4 linked regions of the Homo sapiens genome follow. The protein of the gene in region 3 interacts with the protein of the main gene of each other region in a pairwise test. Each region holds a gene or a part of one and is shown on either strand. Other genes may lie near its edges. The genes, in order: GSE1, CAMK2A, LENG8 and PRPS1.

What was found.
Region 1: the proteins of LENG8 (region 3) and GSE1 interact in binary tests that used the Homo sapiens proteins (3 or more experiments, as listed by UniProt).
Region 2: the proteins of LENG8 (region 3) and CAMK2A interact in binary tests that used the Homo sapiens proteins (3 or more experiments, as listed by UniProt).
Region 4: the proteins of LENG8 (region 3) and PRPS1 interact in binary tests that used the Homo sapiens proteins (3 or more experiments, as listed by UniProt).

The regions. Positions count from the first base shown.
Region 1 is NC_000016.10:85,651,322-85,658,321, forward strand, and holds part of GSE1 (genetic suppressor element 1), read left to right. Parts: intron 1-2,956; coding exon 2,957-3,129; intron 3,130-3,472; coding exon 3,473-3,670; intron 3,671-4,404; coding exon 4,405-4,596; intron 4,597-5,021; coding exon 5,022-5,344; intron 5,345-5,955; coding exon 5,956-6,283; intron 6,284-7,000.
Region 2 is NC_000005.10:150,286,774-150,294,658, reverse strand, and holds the start of CAMK2A (calcium/calmodulin-dependent protein kinase type II subunit alpha), read left to right. Parts: upstream 1-4,885; 5' UTR 4,886-5,033; coding exon 5,034-5,095; intron 5,096-7,885. UniProt on the Homo sapiens protein: Calcium/calmodulin-dependent protein kinase that functions autonomously after Ca(2+)/calmodulin-binding and autophosphorylation, and is involved in various processes, such as synaptic plasticity, neurotransmitter release and long-term potentiation.
Region 3 is NC_000019.10:54,445,146-54,452,312, reverse strand, and holds the start of LENG8 (leukocyte receptor cluster member 8), read right to left. Parts: upstream 3,115-7,167; 5' UTR 3,003-3,114; intron 2,657-3,002; exon of another isoform or gene 2,569-2,656; intron 1,024-2,568; 5' UTR 969-1,023; coding exon 931-968; intron 221-930; coding exon 46-220; intron 1-45.
Region 4 is NC_000023.11:107,638,385-107,645,509, reverse strand, and holds part of PRPS1 (ribose-phosphate pyrophosphokinase 1), read right to left. Parts: intron 6,216-7,125; coding exon 6,032-6,215; intron 4,609-6,031; coding exon 4,510-4,608; intron 3,145-4,509; coding exon 3,020-3,144; intron 334-3,019; coding exon 160-333; intron 1-159. UniProt on the Homo sapiens protein: Catalyzes the synthesis of phosphoribosylpyrophosphate (PRPP) that is essential for nucleotide synthesis.

The sequences.
Region 1 (7,000 bases), on a different chromosome or scaffold from region 3:
CAGGGTTGGCCGGGCGCCAGCCAGACGGAAGCCACAGACATGTGGGTCTGGCTCGCCGGGCCCCTGCCCCGCCTGCTGGCTGCCCCCCAGCCCCCCGGACTCCCTGTTTGTCCTCAGCCAGGCCAGGAAGGTGCCATCTGGCCTGCGAGCAGGGCTTTGTCCTCGGCTGAGGGGAGAAGGGGTTCAAGGGCCGTGTCTGGGCTGGGGACAGGCCCCTCCTTGTGGCGGGGCGGCTGGGGCCCTGTGCTTTGCCGTTTGACCCGGCCCACGGCGCGGGCAGCATGCGGAGGAGGGCGGCAGGCCTGGGCTGTTGGTAGTTTGACCCTGGGTGCTGTCCTCAGGTCGAGGTCTGTCCTCCAGCCCTCTTCTGACTCTGGCCACCCAAGGCTGGGTGATGATTGAAGCCCCTGGCTGTCGTCTCCCTCCTGCCCTGGAGGCCTCCCCACCAGCCTGGGAGGGGGAGTCCAGGTACCCCGGGTGCCTGAGCAGGCGAGGCCCCTGTTCTGGGCATCCAGAGACCCACTAGCTTTAGGCCTGGTGTTCATTGGGGTGCTACTTGGATGCTGGGGGGCCAGGGGCCACTCCGTCTTGTTAAGTCCATCCCAGACCCTAGGAACAGGGTGTGTCCTTCCTCGTGCTCCGTTCCTCAGATGTTTGGCCCTATGCCAGGCAGGGTAGGGGCGTGAGGCAGGATCTAGAAGCCCAGCCTGGAAATAGCCTCACGGGGCTGGGGTAGGCAGGCCAGCCTGGCAACACACCTGCCATGTCCGGGCCCCCACCCTGCTGGTGCGTCCCCCACATGCCCGTGCACAGCTGTGCCATCAACTCTGCTGCCCTGTGAGTCCCCCGCATGCCCGTTCATAGCCGTGCCATCAACTCTGCTGTCCTCTGAGCAGGTGCCGTGACGGGCACATGCCATTGATGTGTGCACGAGGCACGACAGGATGGCCAGGTCTCCCAAGGTCAGGTTGGCCCCTCGGCCACTCCCCCACTACCCCGGTTGCTGACACCGGCTGGAGACCCCAAGGCCAGGCGCTGGCTCCTCAATAGGAAGTTCCCGGCCCCACGCAGGGCGTCAGTGCCCATGTGTACCTCCCACCCTCGAGACCAGCACCCTGGAGAGGCAGGTCAGAAGTCGTGAACCCAGGAGGACCCTACAGAGAAGGGGGGCCGGGGCTCAGCCCGCGGGAAGGGAGCAGATGCTGCCTCTCATTGAAGATTCCAGGCGGCGGCGGCGGCGGCGGCTCCTCCAGTTAATCCTCGCTGACTGTCTCCTGGAGGGTGGAGAGAGGGGAGGCGCCGGCCCGGGCTGCCTGCACTGCCTCTGCGCGGGTGCCATGTGCTGCTGCCGGGTCACCGTCTGCCGCTATGAAGATGGATGGGCCCAGGAAGAGGGGCTGGCGGGTCAGGGACACAGGCACGGCCCCTGGGAGACAGATGCTTCTCCACGGTGGGGCAGGTCTCAGAGCCCCTGGGCCATCATTCCTGCTGATCTTGTGGGGAGACGGCCATGGCCTCCTTGTTTTTTGGGTGTTTGGCATTTCGTGGCTCAGGGAGGCAGAGCGGGGCTGGTGCTCTTCAGGAGCACTGCCCGCTGATCAGCAGTCGTTACCTGACATGGCCAGATGGAACGTGAGGAAGGGCCGGGTTCCCGTGGCTCTGCATCCCTGGGAAGCTCAGAGGGGCCAGCGTGGCCATGGCTCTCAGACACCCCCAGGTCAGGGTAGGCCTGGGCAGTGCTGTCCCCACATGGGGAAGATGCTGGGGCTGAGAACGGCTGCCCCAGTGACAGAGTGACGCCTGGGTTGGCAGCCATCCAGAGTCCAGAGCACAGCCCCCATCTGGGCCGCCCTGAGGCTCCCTCCGCCCCCCTCCTCCCCCCTCCTCCCCCCTCCCCCTCCTCCTCCTCCTCCCCCCTCCTCCTCCTCCTCCTCCTACCCCCTCCTCCTCCTCCTCCTCCTCCTACCCCCTCCTCCTCCTCCTACCCCCTCCTCCTCCTCCTCCCACTTAGTCACACGAATAACAGGAACAAGCAAGGCCTTTTCATGCTCTGGTTTCTCCGGGCTGGACCCTGCGTGTGTGCGGGGCAGCCTCTGCGTGGCTAGGGGTGGCACGGCCTATCCTTGAACTTGGCAGGGACCTCAGCCCGGAAGGTGGGCTTTGGGCCACTGCCTCCTCCTGCTTTGTGCCTGGAGAAGACCCCTCATCTGAGTCCTCTGGACCACCTTCCCAGCTACACCCAGGTCCACTGTGTCCAGGAGCCTGGGACAGGCGAGCTGTTGCCTTCCCTGCCCCACCGTGTGTGTGAAGGCCGGTACCCCAGCTGGCCAGTCAGGGCCCAGCTGCTGCCTGTTCTGGTGGGCTCCAGGGCCAGGGCCACCCCAGGAGGTGGTTGGGGGCAGACCAGCACCTTCGGCCCAGGGGCAGTGCCAGCTTCCTTTGCCCCTGCCCTCCACGTGGGCACCAGGGCCAGGACATCTGCGGCCAGGTGGGCAGCTGTCGGCGCAGTTGACGTCTTGGCTACATCGTGGCACTCGCTTCACGGCGTGCTGGGTGCCAACGGTGTCTGCTTCCCCGGGTGTGTGTCTGGTGTGACCTTCGGATGTCCACACCAGGAGGGGTGGAGGCAGGAGCCCCTGCCACCCTGCATCCTTCACCTGCACACATTGTGTTTCTGGGGGGTTCTAGTTCTTTTGCTGGACTGAGGAGGCCCAGGGAGGGAGACGGATCCCGAGACGCACTTCACCCCAGACCTGTCGCAGCCACATCCCCTTTCTTACGGTTCTGCTTCCCACACCACATGCACCATGTTTTGCGTAGAAAGCCTTAGGGAAAGGATGTTTCTAGAACATGAACTAAATCTAGCGCCTTCCCGTGAGTCAGGAGACCTGGCTGTGTCCTGTGGTCAGTGGCCTATACCAGGCTCCTGCCCTGACTGGACGCTCTCCTCCCGCAGGATGCCGGCTCCAGGAGCAGCAGTGGAGGTCGGGAACGCCTCATTGTGGAGCCCCCGCTCCCTCAGGAGAAGGCAGGGGGACCAGCCATCCCCTCGCACCTGCTCAGCACCCCCTACCCCTTCGGCCTCTCCCCCAGCTCAGTTGTGCAGGATTCCCGCTTCCCGCCACTCAAGTAAGTTGGTCGGCGGGGACTTCGGTGAGGTGGCCAGGTGGGGACACAGTGCTCAGGGTCTGGGTCCCCAGGCAGCCTGCGGTCTGCACAGATGAGGCTGTGCCTGCTAGATGGTTGTCGGCCGCTGAGCCCTGGGGATTGCAGCCCTGTCTGTGCCCCTTCACACTGAGGTGGCAGTGGCAGCTCGCTCCCCCCGCTGCTTAAGCCCCGTCCTCGTTCGGGGTGCCAGGAGTCTGGGTGCCGACTGAGCGCCAGGGGTGATGCAGGGAGTTTAGCCGTCCCCCCATGCAGGAGCAGGTGTGCACTCACCTGTCCCCACCTTGCCCACTATCCCCGCCTGCAGCCTCCAGCGGCCCGTGCACCACGTGGTGCCCCCCAGTACCGTGACCGAGGACTACCTGAGAAGCTTCCGGCCCTACCACACCACCGACGACCTCCGCATGTCCTCACTGCCTCCCCTCGGCCTGGACCCGGCCACTGCTGCAGCCTACTACCACCCCAGCTACCTGGCCCCACACCCCTTCCCCCACCCGGCCTTCAGGTGAGGCATCCCCCACGCGCCCTCTCGTCTAGGTGCTGGCCTGTTCCTGGCAAGATGGAACCTGGCGGGGAAGGTGTTTCTTATGACCTGAGAGCCAGGCTCCTAGGGGAGGGTCTAGAGTAGCCCCTGAAATCGTCCCCAGCTTTGAGCCTAAATTCAGCCCTGATGGCCCATTAGGGGTCCCCTCCTGGTAGACAGTCCCCCTTGGTGACTGTACTGTCATCCTTGGCTCCTCCCCTTCTCACCGGGGGGTCCATTGACAGCAAGTCACTGTTAAGAGAGCAGGGCTTTGCCCGTGGGAGAGGCGATGCTTTGCTGTGTAGCAGGAGACCTCGGTGGCACTGTGGTCTGGCCTGGGTCCGTGGAGAAGCTCTGCCCATCCTTGTCAGAGGTCAGAGGGGCCTGTAGTCATGTCATGGACCACCCCACGTCAGGGCAGCCCAGCCTGCTCGCCAGCCTTGGAAGGGCCTGGGCGCTTGACCACTCTGTGCTGGTCTGGCTGAGCCGAGGGAGGTGGCAGGCGGCGCCCTGGAACCCCAAGCTGTCGGCACCTAGCAGCCTCCGGCATCAAGGGGCTTTGGGGCTAGCAGCAGGCATGGTCTTCATCCCCAGCCATTTTGTCACGTTCCCCACGCTCAGGCAGGTGTGTGTACCTGGCTGAGACACACCTGTCGACAGGGCTGGGTCTTCCCCTTGGTTCATTTGCTGCTCACAGCCCCGTCTTCTCTGCACAGGATGGACGACTCCTACTGCCTGTCTGCCCTGAGGTCCCCGTTCTACCCCATCCCCACCCCCGGCTCCCTGCCCCCACTGCACCCATCAGCGATGCACCTGCACCTCTCTGGGGTCCGCTACCCTCCCGAGCTCTCCCACTCATCCCTGGCAGCGCTGCACTCGGAGCGCATGTCTGGCCTCAGCGCGGAGAGGTAAGTGCGTCTCGAGCCGAGGAGCCCCTCTGCCCTCCCTGTCCCTTGATGGCAGCTGGGCAGAAAGCCTGGGCTGGAACCTGACTGGACTCCTTGGCCATGCCTGTCCTCACAGTTTGTCCACCTGCCAAATGGGACAATGATCGTTCAGGCTCTGCTCTGAAATAGCGCCTGTCTCGGTAGCCGTGGTCTCCTGCAGTAAACCTGCAGGCCGAGGAGCTCTCGGGCGTGCTTGGGCATTTTGTAAGCCGCTTTGATTGTATGGACCTTAAGTTCTTCCTGCACCAGTGAAACCCGGCTCACCTCCCGTCACTGTTCAGATTAGCGCCCTGGCTCGTTCCTGGTTATGCTTTTTAAGGGCCTGCCCCAGGTCCGTCTCTTGTTCCTGGTGCAGCAGAGCCCCCAACTCTTTCCATGTGCTGCAGGCTGCAGATGGACGAGGAGCTAAGGCGGGAGAGGGAGCGCGAGCGCGAGCGCGAGCGTGAGCGTGAGGCTGACCGCGAGCGGGAGAAGGAACGTGAGCGCGAACGCGAGAAGGAGCGCGAGCAAGAGAAGGAGCGTGAGCGTGAGAAGGAGCGCGAGCGCGAGCTGGAGCGCCAGCGGGAGCAGCGGGCCCGGGAGAAGGAGCTGCTGGCCGCCAAGGCCCTGGAGCCCAGCTTCCTGCCCGTGGCCGAGCTGCATGGGCTGCGTGGCCATGCCACTGAGGAGCGGGGCAAGCCCTCGGAGCAGCTGACCCCAACCCGAGCAGGTACCTGGGCGTGGGTGGGCTGTGCTGGGCAAGGTCTCAGCCACCCGCGGGGAGGAGCCCTGAATCGCAGCACCTGCCGGTTGCCGTGGTGTAAATGTTCCCCAGCTGAGTTCGCCCTAAAAGCGTGGTGTGGCTGAACATGGAGTAGGGAGCAGAGGCACGTTGGCACACGATGTAGACACAGTGGATATAGCTGACCCCAGGAGGACAGTTGTGAAATGTAGCCGGGGCATTAGGAAGGGATGTTTTGAGTGCTTCGTTGATTTTATTTCTCTGTAAGTTTACGAAACAATTGTCCAGTAATAACAACCAGCTTTTGCATGTTTCCCGGAAATTTAATAGTCTGCTCTTTGAGCCAGCATGAGCTGGCTCTGGCACCGCACTGGCTGGGCAAGAGTTTTGCCAGCCAGCCACGGAGCGTTTCCTTCCAGGGACAAGACATGCTTCTTGAAAGCTCCCGTAGGGCCCCTTCTGAATATCTTGGTTCTGGCTGCGGGAAGAACCCTTTGGAAGGGCTCTGGTTTCTCTGGGCAGTTGGGTGAGAGAGGACGGGGAGGGAGCATGCTGGCCCACGTGGCTGAGATCCTGCTTGACCGTGTTTCCCCCCACAGAGAAGCTGAAGGATGCCGGCCTGCAGGCGCCCAAGCCCGTCCAACACCCCTTGCATCCGGTGCCCACCCCACACCACACGGTGCCCAGCCTCATCTCCAACCATGGCATCTTCTCTCTGCCTAGCAGCAGTGCTGCCACAGCCCTGCTGATCCAGCGCACCAATGAGGAGGAGAAGTGGCTGGCGCGGCAGCGGCGGCTGCGGCAGGAGAAGGAGGACCGGCAGTCTCAGGTGTCCGAGTTCCGGCAGCAGGTGCTGGAGCAGCACCTGGATATGGGCCGGCCCCCGGTGCCGGCGGAGGCAGAGCACAGGCCGGAGAGCACCACCAGGTGAGTGAGCCCCAGGAAGGAAGGAGGGATGAGCCTTCACGTTCCGATTTGTTCAGCGTGTATTGAGCACCTCCTGTTTGCCCAACATCCTGCCCCAGCGTTTCTGCCTGCCTCTTTCATTTCTGTTCTTTCATCTTCACGTTATAATGCCTGTCTTGCCTATGGGGAAGCTGAGACTGAGGAAGAAAATGGATTGCTCAAAGGTATCCCCACCAGTAAGTAAAGAGACCAATCAAGTCCATGTTGAGAGCCAGGGCACTGCACACGCAGCCTGACCTAGTTCCCAGGAGGCCATTCACAGCAGATGAAGAGTGCAAGGTAGAAGCTTTAATTACTAATAATACCTGTTCTCTCCATCTTCCTCTGCTTTTGAGCCTGGACTTCTTTTTTTAACAAGAAGGGGACAGCTTTTGATTTTAAGGAAAAAAATGAGTTTTATTGCTTTTGTATTAATAGTAAAAACACATGCCCGTTTTCTAGCCCTTTATGAAAGCATTTCCCAGGAAACTGTGTGGTGGTCCCTTGGACCCCGGCTGCAGACACAGGTCTTATGAGCTGGGCCCCAGTGCCCCCAGTCCTCCCTGCCCCTGCCTGCCCTGGGATTCCTGCCTTGGGGCTGTGCTGGTCCCAGGCCCCCACGTCATATACCCCCAGGGCTCACTCTGAAGGGCTGAGCTAAGATCCTCAGCCAGAGTTGGTGGGAATGACCTGCCAGCC
Region 2 (7,885 bases), on a different chromosome or scaffold from region 3:
AGTGGAGCCCAGAGATGCCTGGTGAGACCCCCTGTTTCTTCCTTGGCTGCACCAGATGGCAGCTGATCTGCCAGCTGTAGGGGCCAGAGCCAGGGGGCAGCCTGTCCAAGCTGGGCCCTGCCAGTAGAGTCCTGGGCTCTGGTAACCCATTCCCCAAGGGCCAAGTGATAGCCCCACACCTGGATGGAGGGCCAGTGCTCTGGGCTCCATCTTTCTCAGGAGGAAGTGGAGGTTCTACTGGGGAGACCTCCTGCAAGCTCTTCCAGGACTCGAACTCAGGTCCTCTAACTGCAAGGAGTGCTATGCAGCCATCGGCCCAGTAGCCATTGTCCTCTGTCCCATGGCTCTCTGCTTCACTCTCCCCTGCAAGAGTGCCTCCTGTGTGGGAGACCTCAGGGACAGTTCTGCTCCCTGATCCCTGACTTCCCCCACTTCTTCATGTAGGCCTAGCCTTACTTACTGCAATGAATGAACCCAATCTCCCTCCACCCAGACCCTCAGCAGGACCATTTCTCTCTTGGCCCACTTTCCACCAATTCTGCCCCCCATGCTCACTGCCCTTAGTGGGACAGGCCCTGTGGGGACCCTTTGGATGGCACACTTTCTGTGGTGCCTGCCCAGGCCCTGCAGGACCCTGGGGCACTTGGGCATATGTGTGTGGGCTGTGGAAGGTGGGATTTGAGTCAGCTGTCACAATGCCACTGGGGCTACAATCACCCATGCAGGAACCCAGCCCTGGTCACTTTTCATCCCTTCTGTCTCTGTGGAGCACTGCCTGTGTTCACGTGCCAATCCCTATTCTGGCATGTCAGGACTGGGTTCAGCAACCTCCAGGGCTCCCACCCCTGGCGACCAGCCCATAGCATGGAGGCCTGCTCTCGAATACCACACGCGTGTTGCAGATGGGGGCACACGTGCTGCCTCTCGTGTCTGCTTTGGCCCTGGGGAGTGGGGAGTTTGGCAGGAACAGTCCCCCTCCTGCAATCATCGGCTCATTCTCTCAGCGCCACAGAGGCACGGCTGGCTCCTCAGTGCCCGCCACCACCGGGCACAGCTGCTAGCCTCGCGGGCTCAGGGGAGGTGGTGAATTAGCAGTCATGCCTTCTCAGCAGAGTGGCTATTACCCTCAGGAAGGTGGGGGGTGCCTGTCCGAGGCAGTGCCCACACCGCTGAGCTAGGCTCTGGAAGGCTCAGAGGGGTGTGTGTGTGTGCTCATGTGTAAGACTTTCAGAGGGGACTTCTTCCTCTTCTCCCTCCTCTTCTTCTCTCTTCTGCCTCTCCAGCCATCTCTCTGCTATCTGGATCCTGCAGCCCTCAACTTGCCCATCCCCCAGGACCGCATGCACAGTGCAGGCCAGCAGGGGAGGGAGAGAAGAGTGACAGAAAGAGAGGGAGCTGGAAACCAGAAAGGAAGTAAAAAAGATGAGAAAGACGGAGAACTGAGAAGGAAGGATGCAAAAGAGGGAACAGGAAAAATGAGGGAGAGGGGAAGGCAAGAGGAGAGAAGAAAGGAGAGTGGAAAGGAGAGATGGAAGTAGGGAAGAAAGAGATGACAGGAGCGGGGCTGTGCTGGCCCTGCTCCCAGCAGCCACAGAGGCTGCCCCCGTGGTCCACATCACATACAGGGAGAGAGGTGGCCATCTTCCTGCCTCCATTCCTTCACACCTTCCTCTGAGGGACCTGATGCCAGGGTCTTCCCCATGTGCTCTGCTCACTTCTGAGCATGCTCCATTTCATCAGTGGGAATCGGGAGAGGAAACAGGGGTCAGGCCAGCACCCAGCCACGCAGGACTGTCCCAGTTCAGAACATTAGATTTCCATTAATACAGCCTCATAATCTCACAGCATAGTTGCTTTTTTGTTTTACTGTGAATTTTTAAAACAGCATCATCATTCCTTTGGCACCCGATGAGCTGGAGAGCCTTGTGGTTCCTCTCCTTCTAGCTCTAGTTCTTTGTTCTACAGAAATTGCTGCAAACTAGGCTTAGACAAGGTGATTTCCAAACCATGAGCTAAACTCCAGTGCAGACTAAGGGAACAGTGCCCTGAAGTGCTGGGACTCAAGATGATGGTGTGTGCTTCCGTGATTCAGGGAGTGGTGTGTGAGGGGAGAGGACTTTTGAGTTTCTTGATTATAATTTCCCATTTATTGAGCATTTATAGTGTCAGCCACTGTGCTTGTCTCATTTAATCTACAGAACAGCCTGGAGGTAGGGAATATTATTGACCCAATTATGCAGATGAAGACACAGAGGCACGGAGAAGTTAGGATATTCATCCAAAATCACATAGCCCGTAAGTCGTGGAGTCACCCTAACTACTAAGCAACACTGCCTCTCCTGTCCCTGTGCAATGGCAGGTGGCCTTGGTGGTCACTAAGGGCTCTTCCAGCACTTTCTTGTGTGGAAGCCATCCCCTCCTGGGGGACAGGCTAGAGGGTCTGGGACAGGAGGGTGGCAGTGCAGCCCTCCCCCACCTCCCCACATAGGCCTGTAGCTTGGCCACCGTGTTCTGTGCCCTGCCTGCTGCCCACTGGCTGTGCGGCCCCCAGGCATAGGCCTCTCCACTCTGCCTCTGAATTGCAACGTTGGCGGCAGAAGCGGGAAGCATATTGTGCGCAGAAACAAAACTGAGTGGTTTTCCCTTTTCCCAAAGGTGGTAATGGTGCAATTAGTGGCTAAGCCATTACCCCCCTCCTCCCTTGCTCACTTCCCCTCTTCCCCTCTGCCACCCTCCCTCTCCCACCCTCCCTCTCCTCTCCTGGGAACAGCGGCTGAATGGGTGAGCTCACCCTTTATTCTCCCCCACAGCCCACTCCCAGGAAGAAGGGCAGAATGGGAGGGTTATCCAGATGTCTCCAGGGGGCCCCTGCAAGTAGGGTAGTGAGTCAGGGACTTCATGGGGTTGGAGAATACCAACAAGCAGATAACATGTCCTGCAAGTGAGAGGACTAGCAAGGCAATGTGGAGGTTCAGAGCGGGTGGGCTAGAATCCCTGAGGGTCTGGATGCCTGGATCCTTTTATCCAACCCATGCTCGCTGGGGGCAGGTGCTGGCATGAAGCCTCTGCCCATCAAGCTGCGAAATGGGCCAAGGCACCCTTTTTCCTCAGTGGAGAGGGGAAGGGGTATGCAGGGTCTGAGATGCCAAGCCCAAGCTAGAGTGATGGGGTGGTCACGGGCCAGCTTTAAACCTTCATTTTCCTCCTCTAGAGCCTAGAAAGAGGCCTCCTATTTACATAGTTCCCAAAGGCCTTCACAGCCCTTAGCCCACTCCATCTCCACAGCCTTCCCCTGCAGGGCATCTTCATTCCCCTGTTGTGTAGAAAAGGAGCTGGAGGCTCAGAGAGGGTGAGTGACTTGCCCGTGATCACTCAGCTAATAAATGTCCAAAGGCCGGGCATGGTGCCTCACACCTGTAATCCTAGCACTTTGGGAGGCTGAGGCAGGTGGATTGCCTGAGCTCAGGAGTTTGAGACCAGCCTGGGTAACATGGTGAAACCTTGTCTGTACTAAAACACAAAAAATTAGCCAGACGTGGTGGTGTGCGCCTGTAGTCCCAGCTACTTGGGAGGCTGAGGCAGGAGAATCACTTGAACCCAGGAGACGGAGGCTTCAGTGAGCCGAGCTTGCACCACTGTACTCCAGCCTGGGTGACAGAGTAAGACTCTGTCTCCAAAATAAATAAATAAATAAATAAATAATATAAATAATAAATGTCCAGGAATCAGAGCTCAAACTCAGATCCTTAGTCTTAAACTCCAGTCCCTTTTCTTCCTAACTCCAAGACCTTGGAGTAAGATCTTGTGGCTGTAGGTATGGCTGATGCCCTGAAGAGTTGAAGTTGGCAGGGAAGGTGCCCAGAAAATTTTGGATTGAAGATTTCATGGCAAGTCTCTGGCCAGTGGCCTAGCCCGGGTAAGCCATGCTATGCTCACCTCCCCACAGCCCCCTCTCGCCTTTTTTTTTTTTTTTTTTTTTACCTTGACTGGAAGCACAAGCAGAAACTGGGACATGAGCACCAGGAGACCAGATTTCCATGGTCCCGTTGGGGGCATGGGGTTGGGGAGAGGTTGCAGAGGAGGGCTCTGGAGGGGAGCAACTGTCACAGCTGTGAGAGGTGGGGGTGAGCAGGCAGTCAGGGCTGTTCCCTCCAGAATCCTGGGGTGTCCTCTGCACTTCTGCGCCAAGCTGGAGTGCTAGTGTGATGGACAAGGTGGTAAGAGAGCTGAAAGAGCACGAGCATAACAAGAAAGACAGAGGCAGAAGCAAAAAAAAAAAAAAAAAAAAAACAGAGGGCAACAGAGAGACAGTTACAGAGACTACAGTGATCCACAGAGGGAGAGCCATCCCTGTGAATTAGCCATCATTTCCCTGTAAACCTTAGAACCCAGCTGTTGCCAGGGCAACGGGGCAATACCTGTCTCTCTAGAGATGAAGTTGCCAGGGTAACTGCATCCTGTCATTCGTTCCTGGGGACCATCCGGAATGCGGCACCCACTGGCTGTTACCATGGCAACTGCCTTTTTGCCCCACTTAATCCCATCCCGTCTGCTACAAGGGCCCCACAGTTGGAGGTGGGGGAGGTGGGAAGAGAAAAGATCACTTGTGGACAAAGTTTGCTCTATTCCACCTCCTCCAGGCCCTCCTTGGGTCCATCACCCCAGGGGTGCTGGGTCCATCCCACCCCCAGGCCCACACAGGCTTGCAGTATTGTGTGCGGTATGGTCAGGGCGTCCGAGAGCAGGTTTCGCAGTGGAAGGCAGGCAGGTGTTGGGGAGGCAGTTACCGGGGCAACGGGAACAGGGCGTTTTGGAGGTGGTTGCCATGGGGACCTGGATGCTGACGAAGGCTCGCGAGGCTGTGAGCAGCCACAGTGCCCTGCTCAGAAGCCCCGGGCTCGTCAGTCAAACCGGTTCTCTGTTTGCACTCGGCAGCACGGGCAGGCAAGTGGTCCCTAGGTTCGGGAGCAGAGCAGCAGCGCCTCAGTCCTGGTCCCCCAGTCCCAAGCCTCACCTGCCTGCCCAGCGCCAGGATGGCCACCATCACCTGCACCCGCTTCACGGAAGAGTACCAGCTCTTCGAGGAATTGGGCAAGTGAGTTGTGCCTCAGGAAGTCCTGGAAGGCATGGGGGGCGGGGAGGTCAGGGTCTCTAGTGGGGTGTGTGTGCCTGCAGTGCTTGGGGAGCATTCCTTGTACACAGATGAAGGCAGGCTGCATGGGTTTGGGGGCACCTGCCTGTGTACAGAGTGTCCAGAGTCGGGCGTGGGTATGTTTGTGGGTGCACAGATGTGCCAAGCTAGCCAGGCCAGTGTGTATGTAGGGATGAAGGGTTGACAGTGTATGCCAGTGCACACACATACACACAAAATGCACACAAGTACACACAACCTGGATACACACAGATTCTTAGAGACTTAGGGTTAAAAAGGGATTTTCCTAGTCAGCTGGGTCCAAAGCTGGAATTCCTTCTCTAGTTTTGCTTGAGGTGGCCATCCGCCCTCCACTTAGATACCTCCAGTGACAGAGAATTCACCAGCTCCCGGTAGTTCTTCCTGACTTTAGACACCCACAGTGACTGTACAGAGTGGCCAACTTCTCCCTCCCTACCTCCCCTTTCTCAGCTCCTGCCAGGAGTGAGGGCGTCAGTACAGTAGGGGTTAATATCTGAGCATGACAGGCTTCCCGGGTGTTGGGAGGTGGGGAGAGGAAATCAGGAAAGCTGTAGCGGGGAGCACCGCTGTTTCAGGGGCTAGGGTATGAAGGGTGCAGTGGCTCTGGACAAGCAAAGTTGCCCAGCCCAGAGCTCATTTTCTGCCCTGATGACTGCTGTGTAGAGAAGGATGGGAGGATGAGGAAAGAGGGGAGGCCCTTGTGGGTGGCCCAGTAGGGTGTGGAGTGTCAGGGAGGGATTCCTGGATGTCCCCAGCTGGGTTTCTGGAGGATCCTGGGATGGGTCAAGGGTTGGGTGCATTTTGGAGGCAGAGTTTGCCTTGTGGGCAAAGGAGCACCGATGCCCTGGTTGGTTTCTGCTGAGGCAGCAGGAGCACGGGGGGAGGGGCCCTGGAGGCAGGTGTGTATTGGTGTGAGTTCTGAATGTGTGTGTACTAGTGTGCATTTTGAGGAGTGATGTGTGTGGCTGTAGAAGGGCTTTTGAGGGAAATTGCTTGTGACACTGGGGTACGCTGGTGTGCCCTGCCAGGGTGTGCAAGCATTCATGCATGTGCACCAGGAAGAGGTGCTTCGTGTGTAAGGCCTGAAAATGCAAGTGTGCCTTGCAAGGGTGCATGTGTGTGAGTATTACAAGAGTGCTGTTGGCTGGGTTGAATGAGAACAAGGGTGTAAACATGACTCATTAAATGTGCACATGTATGGCAGGTTAGAGCTGTGTGCACATAGGAAGGCACATGTGTGTGAGGTCTAGGGGTGTGTGAGGATGCTCATATGAGATGCGGACACAATGGTGTTCCTGTGAGGTCTTGATATGCACATCTACGTGAAGACTGGGGTCATGCACACAGGATGATGTACGTGTGTGTGCACACGCATGTGTGTGCATGTGTGAGGCCTGGGCTCACAGGGTTATGTGGGAGTATGGGTGTTATAGGCATGTGTGAGCTCATGCTGGTGTCTGCATATGTGTGGGAGGTGGCCCTGTGACTGTATACAGGAAGGCTGCTTGCACACACACACACACACACACACACACACACACACACACAGAGGCTATCCTACAGGCATGCACCACCTCCCTTGAGCACATATACCCCCATGTGTACGTGTGTTCACTCTTATCTGCAGACTTTCAGCTTTTCTGAATGTGCTTTTTTTGCGGGTAGGGGCAGGAACAAAATGTTTGGGGCTGCTCTGGAGGACTGAGGCTGTCTACAAACTTGTGCAGGGACCCCTCTCCAGGTGTTTTCCAGTGCTCGCCTAGAACCCAAGAATTCCCTGATTAGCCATGAAGCTGCCTTTCAGGGAGTGACCAAGACTGGGTCCTGGCAGGACTGCGTCATGAGTACAGTGAGATGGAGTTGAGATGTGACTCAAGTGCTCAAAGTGAAAATAAAAGTGATGTTTTGCCCCAAGAGGAGATGGATATCATTAAGACTGGGTTTTGTGGGGGCAACTTGGTAGAGAGACCCTTCGTGAGCCTTCACAGAGAATTTCAGGGGCAAGGGAGCCCTGGTGTGGCCATGGCAGGAAAACCGAGGGTAGCAGGCATAGCTAGGCCTTGTTTAATCAATTTCAGACTTCTTCCTTCCAGAACCATCAGACTGCTCTTAACCTTTTTTAGGTCACATATTCCTTCAGGAATCTGATGAAAGTCTAAATCTACGTTCCCCAGAAAAACGCACAAACCTACGAAATGTTGCATGCAATGTCAGGAGCTTGCAGGGACATCGGGAAGACTGTGTATGAGCCTAAGTTTGCAGAAGCTTGTGTTAGAGACAAGGGGATAAAGTGGACTGATTCCGCACCCCTGATGTCTGTGTTAAAAAGTCCAGACCACATCATTGAGGAGCCTGGGGCTCCTGCTCTCCACAGCAGCTTCAGTCTGAGCATCCAGTGGTGCAGGGAGGGGCAGTGCCCTGCGTAGCCACTAGGGACACAGGCGCTGTCCCTCATCACCCATAGCTCTGTGACACCAGGCAGGCTATGCTACCTCTTTACCCCCACCTGTAGTCTGGAGATAAAAAGGGCTGTGAGCATTCAATGAGATGGTGCATGTAGAGATGCAGCCTCGAGCCTGGCACATGACAGGCCCCCAGGGCCGATTGCTACTGGGGTGACTGTTGTTGTTCTCAAAGGCTGGGCAAGGCTGAAAGTGAGGAATGGGATCTGCTTGTACCTTTTGTCTGGAGTTGGCCCATCCGGGGCTGGGA
Region 3 (7,167 bases):
ACAACCTCTGGCTCAGGGTACCCCAGCCCCATGAGGCCTTCTCACCTGTGCACTGGCCACAGGCCCATTGCTGCTGGACTTGGCAGAGCCGCCGGCAGCTCCTGACTTGCTGATGCTGGCCAGGGCCTGACGGGCCTTCTCCCACTCCGGGTTCTCGTGCATCGGCGTCTCCATGCCATTCTCTCGGCCTGCCCCAGCCACCATGCTGTACTGAGAAGACCTGCAGAGAGAGAGGACATCAAGTCACACCTGTTCTCCCCACTGTACACAGGTGGGCAAGTTGGGAGGCAAATTCCAGCCCCTGGATCCCATATCTAACTGTTACTACCAGTCTAAGCCTAAGTTTTCTAATCTGTACTATGCTGATAAAGGGTTTCTGCTTCAGAGTCTGCTGGGAGGGATAAATGAGATCACCTACTTAAGGTACTTATCCCAGAGCCTGGCACACAGCAGTTGTTAAAACCAAACAAACAAAACAATTAACAGAACCCACAGAACTGAACACAGGCCTTGGCACCTCCTAGGGCTATGTCTTTCATGAATCAATGAATTCTGTCTGACATCACCCCAGTCGGCAGGTTATCACACTATTTTGAGAAAAAATAAGGAATCAGCAGAAAAACAAATAAATGACTGTGTATTGAGTGTTGGGAAGCTGCCTCCTAATTACACTTGCTTGAATGAATCATCACAATTCTGCAAAGCAAGCGCTGTACTGTGAAAAACGAAAGCTCAGAGAGGTGAAAGCTTGCCCCTCTCCACACCACAACCAAATGCTTCCCTCTGTGTTTGCCTCACCACCACCCCCACCCACAGGGATTGTGGCATCACCTCCCCTAAGGCCACGGGAGGTCCCACCCCAGAGGACAGCACTGGGTCTTGCTTCCTCTTTCCCTCCCGACTGGCCTCCATCCCTCTCGCCTCACTAACCAATCTGTGCTACGTTGATCACCCACGTTGGCCGCCATCTGGACCTTGGGGTATAAGGGGTGGACCTCGGGAGCCAGACTGCTTTTTCACTGTCTATGAGAAAAAGAATGAGTTAGGGAGACTTAAGGGGGAGCTAAAAACACGTCACAAAGTGGGGAAGAAAAGTAGATGGACTCAAGAGAAGCCGGGCAGAAAAGGGGAGGCTGACTGAAAAGCCACTGGGGTCAAGGATCTGAAGAGTTCTGGGTGTGGACTAGAAAGGCTGGAGTGAGGGGAAGCCCCTGGCCCCTTTGTAGAGCTCCAGGTGGAAAACGAAGGATTTGGAAACAGGGAAGCCAGAGCAGACTTCCCAAAGGGAAGGAGAAGGGTCTGAAACCCATGTGAGCAAAGAGAGGCTGTGATGAAAGGTCCAGAGGGTAGGGGTGCCTCCATCAAGGGGAAAAGGTCTACAAAAAATTCTAGGGGCCAGGCGCGGTGGCTCACGCCTGTAATCCCAGCACTTTGAGAGGCCAAGGCGGGCAGGTCACCTGAGGTCGGGAGTTCGAGACCAGCCTAACCAACATGGAGTAACCACGTCTCTACTAAAAATACCAAATTAGCTGGGCATGGTGGCATATGCCTGTAATCCCAGCTACTAGGGAGGCCGAGGCAGGAGAATCGCTTGAACACGGGAGGCGGAGGGCGGTAAGCTGAGACTGCGCCATTGCTCTCCAGCCTGGGCAACAAGAGCGAAACTCTGTCTCAAAAAAAAAAAAAAAAAAAAAGCTAGGGAGTACGGGTTGTGAAAGGAACCTGAACCAAGAGGATGGATGCTATAATGAGAAGAGTCTGAGGGAACCCTTAAGGCTGAGAGGGTGGAAAGGTTTCCGAGAACTCTGTGAAAAGGGAGGCCTTTCAGGGAGCATCGAGGGGGCTGGAAGAATATTGGAGAAGAGAAGAAAATTTTGAGAGGAAAAGGGGATTTTCCGGAAGTTAACCCTGGAAGCAAGTGGTCGTTGAGCGTTCCTGAGAATGCCAACGTGAACCCCAACGTGAAGAAATGGGTTCTTAGCACTGACAGACTGATTTCAAAAAGGTCTCCGAAGGGCAGTAAAGAGACCTACGTGGGAGTCCTCAGTGGGACTACCCCTGCCTGCTTCCACGGGAGGTTCCCGGAAGCAGGGGTAGGGCTGGGAGAGAAAAGGGATCACCGTGGTTGGGTGTCTGGACATAAAGCTTTGGGAATGCCAAAGAAGACCCAAAACATGTTCAACGAATTAAGAGTGGGGTACAGAGAGAATTGGAAGAAAAGTGGAGTGTCTCCGGAGCAAGGATTCAGGAGCCTAAACTCCCGAGAGGGAGTAACTGATAAGTAGGATAATTAATCCCGCAGGAGAACCGGAATTCCCACGAGTTGACGGGATAGGAACGGGAGTCTGGAGCTGGGGAAAAGCCCTAGAAACGCAAAGGCTTAACTTAAACAGGACACAGGGCGTGGGTGGAGACGAGGGATCGTGGCGGGGACACAGGAAGAGGAGCCCCAGGGCAGAAGGGAGATTAGAGGTAAGGTCAGGAGTTGGGGGCTGGACAGAGGACTCCCGGACGGGTCTCAAGAACAGAGACAGGCATCAGACGCGAGGCCTGAGGTCCCGGGAGCACCTGGCCGTCCCGCAGGCTGGGCGAAGGCAAAGGAGGACGCCGGGTGGAGGAGGCCGCTCGGATCCCCACGACTAGCCACGGAGCCACTGCCCAGGCCGCGCCTGCGCACCACGCCCCAGAAAGACGCGCAGGAGCCGCCCGTCGCCCGGGGCAACACCCGGTCAACGGCGAGTGAGGGGCGCCCCGGGGCCCCGAGAACTCCAAGGGAGAGGAACGGAAATTAGAAGACGACGGCGCACGCGCGCTAGTGCCCGAACGCGCGGCCCCAGGCCCGGTGCGCAGGCGCAGTGGCTGCCCCTGCGCCGCCACACCCTGTCGACGCTCGCGCGCGGCGTCTGCTGCTGCGACGGCCGAGAAGGCCTCGGGGCTCGCGGGGCGCAAGACCAAAAGGAGATGCTATCCCCGCCCGCCTGCTCGCCTGCCGCTCCCCTTACCAACCAGGATCCTTCGCTGCAGGGACACGCCAACAACCACCCAGGCGATCAGCAACACGGCCACGACACCGCTGTGCCACCCGGCTGGCTCTGGTCTTCTTTGGCTTCGACGTCCTGACCGCGGCGTCCTGACGTCACGCGGCGGCCTTGCACCGCCTCCCTCGGCCCTGCACAGCCAATGAACGCCACGAGCTGCGCTTGAGCCCGCCTTCCTGCCCACGCACTTACGCATGAACATTTTAAGGCAGACCGGAAGTCTGGGTGGGGACGGTGGCCCCGAGGAGACAAGCGTGGCCGCATTAGCTCTTTCTGCCTCCCACGCAGCCTTATTTTTTTTATTGTTGTTTTCTTGTTGCTGTTGTTGTTGTTCTCGGAGACGGAGTCTTGCTCTTGCTCTGTCGTCGCCCACGATAGAGTACAGTGGCGTGATCTCTGCTCACTGCAACCTCCGCCTCCTGGGTTCAAACAATTCTGCCTCAGCCTCCGGAGTAGCTGGGATTACAGGCGCGCGCCACTATGCCCGGCTAATTTTTGTGTTTTTAGTAAAGACGGGGTTTCACCATGTCGGCCAGGCTGTTCTCGAACTCCTGACCTCGTGATCCCTCCGTCTCGGCTTCCCAAAGTGCTGGGATTACGGGCGTGAGCCACCGTGCCCGGCCGCAGCCTTGTTTTGACTGAGTCAGTGGGAGCCATTACTGTTCCTAAATGTAAACTGGCGTGACAGGAGTTCCGGGATTGTCCACAGCACGGTGATGTGGAAGCCCTGGGGAGAGAATGATAAAGAAAGGGGATGAGGAACAGCTCCACCCGGAAGAGCGGGCTTCCCTAGCAAATGAATCTGGAAGGGCGCAGGGGAGGGGGCACGGCGAGTTCAGATGGACCGAGGCTGGAAGCTGACGCGGTTGGAGGGGGATGGGTGTAGCTGTTGGCAGTGGCGCTGGGGTGGAAGTGTGTGGGGTCACAGATGTGTAAGGGTGGGCGCGGAGCAGACCCCCGAAGGTCCCTGAGGTCAGGCTGAGGCATTGGACCAAATCCGTACATAGGCATTTCTCTGAACTGCGCGCCACCTTTTGAGTGCCATCTGTTTCCGTCCAGGACTCTGATACAACTATCCAGTCCGCTGCAGGGACCGGTCACTGTGTCACAGTAAGTGGTGGGATTTAAGAGGCAGTTTTCCTCCTCATGTTCTACCATTATGAACGTCTAGCTTGAAAAATACATACCATTTTCATAACTACGTATTATTTTGTTAGTGCTAGCATAGTAGATCTTTTTCCGTTATTTTACTCTGTGGGGGGGGGGGGGTTTGTTTTGTTTTTGTTTTTGTTTTCTTTTTGGTACTAAGCTTTTTGTTCTGGAATAATTTTGGATTTATTCAAAACGTTGCAAAGACCGGGCGCGCTGGCTCACGCCTGTAATCCCAACACTTTGGGAGGCCGAGATGGGTGGATCACCTGGGGTCAGGAGTTCAAGATCAGCCTGGCCAACATGGTGAAGTCCCGTCTCTACTAAAAATACAGAAATTAGCTGGGCGTGGTGGCGCGTGCACCTGTAATCCCGGCTACTCGGGAGGCTGAGGCAGGAGAATCGCTTGAACCCAGGAGGCCAAGGTTGCAGTGAGCCGAGGTTACACCATTGCACTCCAGCCTGGGCAACAAGAGTGAAATTCTTGTCTCAAAAAAAAAAAAAAGAAAAGTTGCAAAGATCATAAGCAGTCCACCATGTTTTATGCCCACTTTCTTCTGATGCTGTCATCACAAGCACCAACAAAAGTGGTTTGTTGTAGATACTGACATGATGCATTACTGTAACTAAAACCCAGACTTTACTGGGATTTCACCACCTTTTCCTCCAATGTTTTCTTTACATGCCAGGGTACAAGCCAGGACCCACGTTCCATTTAGCTTCCTTTTACCTGTTGTATTTAGGGTGGGTTTCTTGTAGATAGCATGTAGTTGGATCTTGCTTTTTTTTGCCCAAGCGAACAGTCTCTGCCTTTTAAAAGAGGTGTTTATAACTGTACTTTTATTTTTTATGTCTTATTCTTTAGCATTCTGTACACAGATACAGCGATAAAATGAAATGACTGGAACTTAAATGTGAAAACTCTTTACAAGTAAGCCCACAATTAGATACATTTATCTTACATGTCAGGGAAAAAAATTATGTAAACAGGACAAATTATATCACAAAAGAATCCCAAAGTAGAAAAAATACCTAAGAAATGTGTCTAACCATGAAAAGTACTGTTCTCTTGGTGTCTTCACATCGTGTCTTCTGTGTACTTAAGTACAAAACATTGTTGCCTCTGATTAATGCACCCTGTACTTATTTTTCTGTTGTCCAGTTACATATTTGGTTGGTTCCAGGGCTATGTTCATGTAGCCATCCAGGCAAACCAGCACCCCTCCCTTAATCCACTTCAGAATTTTACCCCAACTGTCTGATGATGTGCTCTAAGAAGTCACTAGGGGATTGCTTTTCTTAAAAAATCTATTATTATTATTATTTTTTGAGACGGCTCTGTCGCCCAGGCTGGAGTGCAGTAGCACGATCTCAGCTCACTGCAACCTTTGCCTCCCAGGTTCAAGCAATTCTCTTTACAGGCGTGCACCACCACACCCAGCTAATTTTTGTATTTTTAGTGAAGACAGGGTTTCACAGTATCTGGAATTCCGGACCTCAGGTGACCCGCCCGCCTCTGCCTCCCAAAGTGCCGGGATTACAGGCATGAGCCACTGCGCCTGGCCAGTAGGGGGTTGCTTCTGAAAACTTATTTTAATAATCTTGGGTAGGCCAGGCGCGGTGGCTCATGCGTGTGATCCTAGCACTTTGGGAGGCCGAGGCGTGTGGATCACCTGAGGTCAGGAGTTCAAGACCAGCCTGGCCAACATGGCGAAACCCCGTCTCTACTAAAAATACAGAAAAATTAGCCGGGCATGGTGGCGCATGCCTGTAATCCCAGTTACTCATGAGGCTGAGGCAGGAGAATCGCTAGAACCCTGGGGGTGGAGGTTGCAGTGAGCCCAGATCATGCCATTGCACTCCAGCCTGGGAGACAGAGCGAAACTCTGTTTCAAAAAATAATAATCTTGGGGGGCAGGAAACCTAAGTCATAATCCCGGCTCTTTTACTTAACCAGCCGTATGACTTGGAAAACTCGTTTCCCTTCTCTCGGCTCCAGATTCCTCATCTTGCAGCTGGGATCCAGAGCTCTCACTCCAGGAGCCCAGTCACAGCAAAAACCAAAACTGTACTTTTTTTTTTTTTTTGAGACAGGGTTTCTCATTCTGTCACCCAGGCTGGAGTGCAATGATGTGATCTCTGTCTCAGCCCACAGCAGCTTCAACCTCCCAGGCTCAAGTGATCCTCCTGCCTCAGCTACGCAGTGTATGGTATTTTGTTACAACAACCAGAATGTAGTAAGACATTTATTGAAGGATATCTTGGTTCCTTCCAAGTTTTTGGCAGTGATAAAGAAAGCTGCCATAAACGTGCACGTGCAGATTTCTTTGTGGGCAGAAGTTTTCAACCCATCTGTGTAAATACTGGGGAGCAGTGTTGCTGGTTCATATTCTAAGAGTATGTTTAGGATTATGAGAGACCACCACACTGTCCTCCAAAGTAGCTGTACCATTCTGCATTGCCAGCACCAATGAAGAAGGGTTTCTGTTGCTCCACATTTCTGCCAGCATTTGGTGGTGCCAGCATTTTGGATTTGGCATTCTAATAGGTATGTAGTGGTGTCTTGTTTTTTTTTTGTTTTTTTGAGACAGAGTCTCACTCTGTCTTCCAGGCTAGAGTGCAGTGGCATGGTCTCGGCTCACTGCAACCTCCGCCTCCTGGGTTCAAGCGATTCTCCTGCCTCAGCCTCCCGAGTAGCTGGGACTACAGGCGTGCGCCACCACGCCCAGCTAATTTTTGTATTTTTAGTAGAAACGGGGTTTCACCATGTTGGCCAGGATGATCTCGATCTCTTGACCTCGTGATCCACCTGCCTTGGCCTTCCAAAGTGCTGGGATTACAGGTGTGAGCCCCCGCGCCCGGCCAGTGGTGTCTTGTTTTAACGGACGGTTCCCTAATGACATACGGTGAACATCTTTTCCTGTGTTTATTTGCCATCTGTATTAGGGTTCTCCAGAGGGCCAGAACTAACAGGATATAT
Region 4 (7,125 bases), on a different chromosome or scaffold from region 3:
ATTTCTATGTATTATAATTTAAGCCTTGGGTGATAAAAATCTCACAAAGTTACTTATCCCCTCAATTTGGTTCCAAAAGGAATCAGCAGGCTGAAGACATTCAGACAGCAATTGCTAGCTTTTTCCTTCTAACTACCAGCCCCATCAATCCACACTTACTTGTCAGCTGCATGGCAGATTGTGCCACAAGTGTCAGCCATGTCATCCACAAGGATGGCCACCCGATCCTTCACATCTCCCACAAGCACCATGCGGTCCACTTCATTGGCCTTCTTCCGTTCTTTGTGAATCAAGGCAAAGTCCACATTCAGCCTGTCTGCAATGGAGGTCACTCTGCAAAACAGAGCGTGTTCATATGTATGTGTGGCTTCTAAGACAAAAGAAATGGACTAAAGAGGCCGGGGGCGGTGGCTCACGCCTGTAATCCCAGCACTTTGGGAGGCTGAGGTGGGCGGATCACAAGGTCAGGAGATAGAGACCATCCTGGCTAACACAGTGAAACCCCATCTTTACTAAAAATACAAAAAATTAGCTGGGCATGGTGGCGGGCGCCTGTAGTCCCAGCTACTCGGGAGGCTGAGGCAGGAAAATGGCGTGAACCCAGGAGCTGGAGCTTGCAGTGAGCTGAGATCGCGCCACTGCACTCCAGCCTGGGTGACAGAGCGAGACTCTGTCTCAAAACAAAAAAAAAAGAAAAAAAGAAATGGACTAAAGAATGGGCTTGTTTTGGGGAGGAGAATACTCCTTGAAACCAATAGTTCCCAGGGCTGGAAGAATGAAAGCAACTATCATTGACTTCTCAAAGGCAAATATCACAAACTGGGTTTTATAAACCAGTGCCTCCATAGCTCAACAGAAGCTTATGAACGTACTGATCAAACTTAGATGAGTATTCATTCTGGGTAGAGGACAGACACCCTCACCAGTACTGGGAAGCAGTATAACGCTAAGACACGCAAGTTTATTTAATGGATTGGCAGCAGAAGGAATGAGGAAAGAATTAACTAATGCCAGGAGTACACAGACTGTCCCAATTCCCATCATGGAAGACCCGTGAATGGGGATGTGGTGAGAAGAGAACCTGACTGGCAGGAGAGGAGCAGCATCCAGCCTGTTCCAATGCCTGTGTCCTCATCACTTCCCTCAGTGCTGTTGGCAAAACATCCATCAACTGTCACTGTCAACTGTACCTGGACACCAAGCTTGGGAGTTTTTTTCACAATTGCTAGACAGAAAGTTATATCAATTACCCAGACAAGCTAGGCATCTCACCATTCGGTCCAAAGTATCTTCCAATCAAAGAGAATTCTTATTTTTCTTATTACAAGAGAAAATAAACCAGACTAGAAGGTAGGATAGAAGACAAATTTGTCTTTTGACAAAGTACCACATAATTCAAACAAAAATCTATTCAGTGTAAATGACAGTGAGCTGCCCCAGTGGCACGTCTGTCCATGCTCCGCTGTGCCATCTCCGTCATGTGTGAAGCAGCCCGTGCTTGGGGATTTGTCCTGTTTTTTAATGTAGAACTGAACAAACTATAGCATTTTGTCCTGTTTCTCTTGTGACTATGGTCACATGAGTTTTTGCTGGATAAGTGAGAACCTGTGACCACATAATAAGGTTTGAACCATAATCTAGGTAACATTTGTACCTTGATCTAAACCAACCATACCCTGTACTCTCCATTACTACTACTGCATAAGCACATAACATCAGTGGTAACCAATTCGCTTGGAATGATTACTTACCCAAGGCAAATGCATGATCAATTAGTTCAAGTATCCCAAACCAACCATACTCAAAGGCCAACAAATTCAGTGACCAACAAAGCATAAAAAGGGCTAGAAAAAGTAACTCTCTACACCTTTTGAGGAGAGAACTACTGTACAAATGAATATCACACAGGGATCTCTACCTACTCCCCAAACCCTGCCAACACAGAAGTGATAGACACTCAATTGTAAAATACTCCATCACTATAAGACAATGATAATGAAAAAAAAATCAGGTAGCAATAAGTTGTCTACTAAAGGCAGTTTTCCTATACCCACCTTTGGAAAGAAAATCCTGCCTATTTCAAATGTGACTATTTTCTAAGTCCCACAGAAAGATATTAAAATAATGACCGACAAATTAAATATGACAACTACTAGTTGGGGGGATGTTTCTTAGGCTGTCTCTAGCATTACAGATGGTAACTAGCAATTACATGGGACTCACCAACCCATATATCTGGCTGGATAACATAACTCAAGTTCTCAGCTTATCAGTTCTGTTGAAGTTACTGAAATAAAAGAGGTTGTTGAGAAACAGTCATTGAAGATTTGAATGGCTTTTAGAAAGTTCTGAATTAGCTCTTCCTAATCATCTGTGTTTTGTAGCTCTTCATTCTATTTCCACAACAAGAAGAACATGTGTCACACTTTTGAATGCATTACTAACGAGTAATCCACTAAGGAAATCAAGAGCTCTTAGTCTGCACCATGTGAGCTGCAAAGCACTGTTAACTGGCAATCCCTGGCAATCAGTTTGTTTAAAATGTTAAGATCTTGGCTTTAAATAAAAATGTCACACTTTACTTTCCTTCCTGCTTAATATTTTAATCCCAAGGATCAAAATGATCTAACCAACAGCATTGTAAGAGGAGTGTAAAAGCGAATTTGTCCACCAATATGTGGTTCAATAGCAGCTGCTATTCATTAGAAAACCACATTTTCTACCCTTCCCAAAAGGTTTATAGCTGTATTGCTAGCTCTGTAGCACCAAGTTACTCATAAGTTATAGTCAAATCCATAATATGATGATTTAGGACCCCTTTTCTGTCTTGTCTTCCGAGTAGTAACTGAGGACAGTAAAAGAGGAAAGGGTAAAACTATATTCAACCCATGTGCTAGCTACTTACATCCATTCAAAAATACTTAAAAACTGCCACTTGGATAGAAAAACTTCACTTTGTGACACAACCATCTGAAAGATTTTCCCAGTACATTGGGAACAATACTAATTTCAACCATACCTCTTAGCTCCACCAGCATCAGGTGAGACAATAGTGCAGTTCCTCCACTCAGAGATATTCTCCCTTATCCACTTTAGGACAGCCGGCTCTGCATACAAATTGTCTACTGGGATATCAAAAAAGCCCTGTAGAAAGAAGCTGGATCAGTTTTGCTTCACTTTCCTTCTCTTCCATTTATAAATGGCAAACACAAAGTAGTAACTTGCTCAGAGAATGTCTTACTGCAACATTCAAACTGATGGGAAGGCAGGCCCAGTGTGGTAGATTATAAAAGCCTCCTTGAATCTGGGCTATGTGAGAGAGCCCAGCCAAGATCAGCAAAGCCAGCCCTCAGTCAACCCACAACTGAACATAGGAACATAAGTGAGCCCTTGTAAAGAATGGCTAAGTTCAGACAAAACCATTAAGAACTGCCCAGTCAACATGCAGACTCAGTGAGTTTGTAAATACTGCTTTATGCCACTAAGTGTTGGACTGATTTGTTAAGGAGTAAAAGCTAATGGATAAACCAGTTAGAGATGCTATGGCATATAAACTTAATGGAAGCTACTTATGATAAATAGTCACAGTGAATAATTAGAAATCAGGAGATCTGTGTTCTAATTCTAGTTGATACAAATTAGTTGTATTTCTCAATTAAGTCATTCCTTTCCATAAAAGGAGTACAGTCCCTGTCCAATGTACTTCATTGAATTCCCACAAGCTTGAAATGTAATGATTTGAAAAATCTCTTTGAAAAAATATAAAATAAAGGTGGTATTCCACCCCCCTTACTTTGGGTTTATGTTGGAAAGTAGGCTCCAATATCTGTGGCTCTAAATTTAAGACCATGAGGCCAGGCACGGTGGCTCATGCTTGTAATCGCAGCACTTTGGGAGGCTGCAGCAGGCAGATCACTTGAGGTCAGGAGTTCGAGACCAGCCTGGCCAACATGGTGAAACCCCATCTCAACTAAAAGTACAAAAAAGTTAGCTGGGCCTGGTGTCAGGTGCCTGTAATCCCAGCTACTTGGGAGGCCGAGGCAGGAGAACTGCTTGAACTGAGGAGGCAGAGGTTGCAGTGAGCCAAGATCGTGCCACTGCACTCCATGAATATTCAAGGAGAATAAGAATGATAATAACAGCTCCTATCTATGAGTACCTGTCATGGGCCAGGCATTATAATATGAATTTAATGTTTTATACTCACAATAATGAAAAAGTATATGTTCAGAGAAATTAAGTAACCTTCCCAAGCTTACAAAGCTAGTAAATACCAGAGCCTTTATTCAAAGTAGTGCTCTTCCCATAAAACTAGACTGCCTCCCTATCTAACCACCTGAAATGACTAAGATCATGAAGTATGCTTAAGGTGAACACATTTAAAATGTTGTTGATATCTAGTTTATTTCAGATGTACTTGGGCATAATTTTTGGCTTCTCTGCAGTCTTCAGCATCATCAGTCCTTTCCTCCCACCTTTCAAACACCAATATTTAGCTTCCACTGATACCTGAATTTGAGAAGCATGTAGGTCCATGGTGATAATATGATCTGCACCTGCTACAGATAGCATATTTGCAACAAGCTTGGCTGAGATTGGCGCCCGGCTCTAAATGGAGGGGAGGAAAGAAAAGAAAAACCAAAAAGCCAATTTGAAAAACAATTCATTTACTCAAGAAACTATTTATTGTGTACCTACTATGTTAAAGGCACTATGGTACCCAGAAATTCATAGAAGGAGACATGTCCATTGACTTTAAGTGGATCATAATTCAGAACAAATATTAAGTGGAACATCACTTTTCCAAATCAGGATACACTTATCAATAAAGAAAATGCTTTCCTAACTTTTGTTTTCTTAATGTACACATTTTCAATCCTATTCAAGTGTTTCCAATGCTCAATTATTCAAACTAGGCAGACTTTAAAAAATAATTTTATTAAAATCTCTTTCAACACATACATATGTAAACCTTTAACACCTAACATGTCAAGGTTTGAAGATACATCACAGAATAGATATTATAGTTTCCTTTGTAAATCACATCACTACTTACTCATCTGGAGGTCAACTTTCCAACAACTATGAACTCCTCAAATAAAACATACTTGCTGCACTGTAAAATAGCAAAGTCCATGCATGCCTTTTTTTTTTTTTTTTTTTTTGTAGAGACAGAGTCTTGCTCTATCGCCCAGGCTGGAGTGCAGTGGCATGATCTCAGCTCACTGCAACCTCTGCCTCCTGGGTTCAAGCAATTCTCCTGCCTCTGCCTCCCGAGTAGCTGGGACTACAGGCGCGCAGCGCCACGCCTGGATAATTTCTTTTGTATTTTAGTAGAGACGGAGTTTCACAGCGTTGCCCAGGCTGGTCTCAAAACTCCTGAGCTCAGGCAATCCTCCCGCCTCGGCCTCCCAAAGTGCTAGGATTGCAGGCGTGAGCCACCGCACCCGGCCCATGCCCTTTACTTTATACTCTGTTGGAATAAAAATATCTGACCTTCTTCGAGGCATTGTGTGTAAAATTGGGCATTAATTACAATAGACTTGCAAAGTTTTATGTATATGCCTTATCCTCTAATATACCAGGATAAGGTGAGAGATATATATAGTTTATCTATCTATCTATCTATCTATGTATCTATCAGATCAAGTATTCATATAACAGACTTCAAGTTTTATGAAGAGGTCACAACTAGGATCCCAATCTTACAGTTTGAGAGGATCTACCGTAATTTTAAAAATATACTCCAGTACTCCAGAGGAGTTGGTGCTTAGTCTTACTGATACAATTAAAAATACCAGTGAGCTAACTGAAAGTTATATATGTATCACTGTAATAAAATACAGACTACAAATGTGTTGCTTTATACAAACCAATTATATTTCTATTGTTTTGAAGATAGGGTAATACCTAAGAAAAGGTGATTTTTAAAATTCCCCCTAAATATATATTTGATAATTTTGGAATTTATTTGTGATTTGGGGCAAGTGCTCCTGCTTCCTCTGCTCAAAAAATAAAATTCTGCTCCTACCTTATCTTTCTTATCCTGCCGGGCATAAGGGAAGCATGGGATGACTGCAGTAACCCGGCTGGCTGAAGCAATCTTGCAGGCATTAATCATGATCAAAAGCTCCATTAAATTGTCATTGATTTCGCCACAACCACTCTGAACAATGTAGACATCCTCTCCACGTACACTTTCACCAATTTCCACACTACAATGAGGAAAGAAAGAACATGAAATAGATTTTAAACCACTGTACTGTCAGCCCTCCATATCCATAGGTTCCACATCTATGGATTCAACCAAGTGTGGATTGAAAATATTTGGAGAAAAAATTGCACCTGTATTGAACATGTACAGATTTTTTTCTTTGTCATTATTTTCTAAATACAGTATAACAACTATTTACGTAGTATTTATATTGTATTAAGTATTATAAGTAATCTAGAGATGATTTAAAGTATATGGCAGGGCTGGGCGCAGTGGCTCATGCCTATAATCCCAGCACTTTGGCAGGCCAAGGTGGGTGGATCACTTGAAGTCAGGAGTTCGAGACCAGCCTGGCCAACATGGCGAAACCATGTATCTCTACTAAAAATACAAAAATTAGAAGGGCATGGTGGCAGGCGCCTGTAGTCCCACCTACTCAGGAGGCTGAGGCACGAGAATCGCTGGAACTCAGGAGGCGGAGGTTGCAGTGAGCTAAGATCACACCACTGCACTCCAGCCTGGGCAACAGAGTGAGACTCTGTGTCAAAAATAAAATAAAATAAAATAAAATATATGGGAGGGCCTGGCATGGTGGCTCAGCACTTTGGGGAGCAGGGGGCAGGGTAGAAGGAGGATCATTTGAGCCCAGGAGTTCAAAACCAGCCTGGGTAATACAGTGAGACCCCATCTCTACAAAAAATAAATAAATAACAATAAAGTATAAGGGAACATGTGCATAGATTATTTCATATGGCCGGGCGTGATGGCTCACGCCTATAATCCCAGCACTTTGGGAGGCTGAGGTGGGCGGATCACCTGAGGTCAGGAGTTCAAGACCAGCCTAGTCAACATGGTGAAACCCGTTTCTACTAAAAATAAAAAAATTAGTCAGGGTGTGGTGGCTCACACCT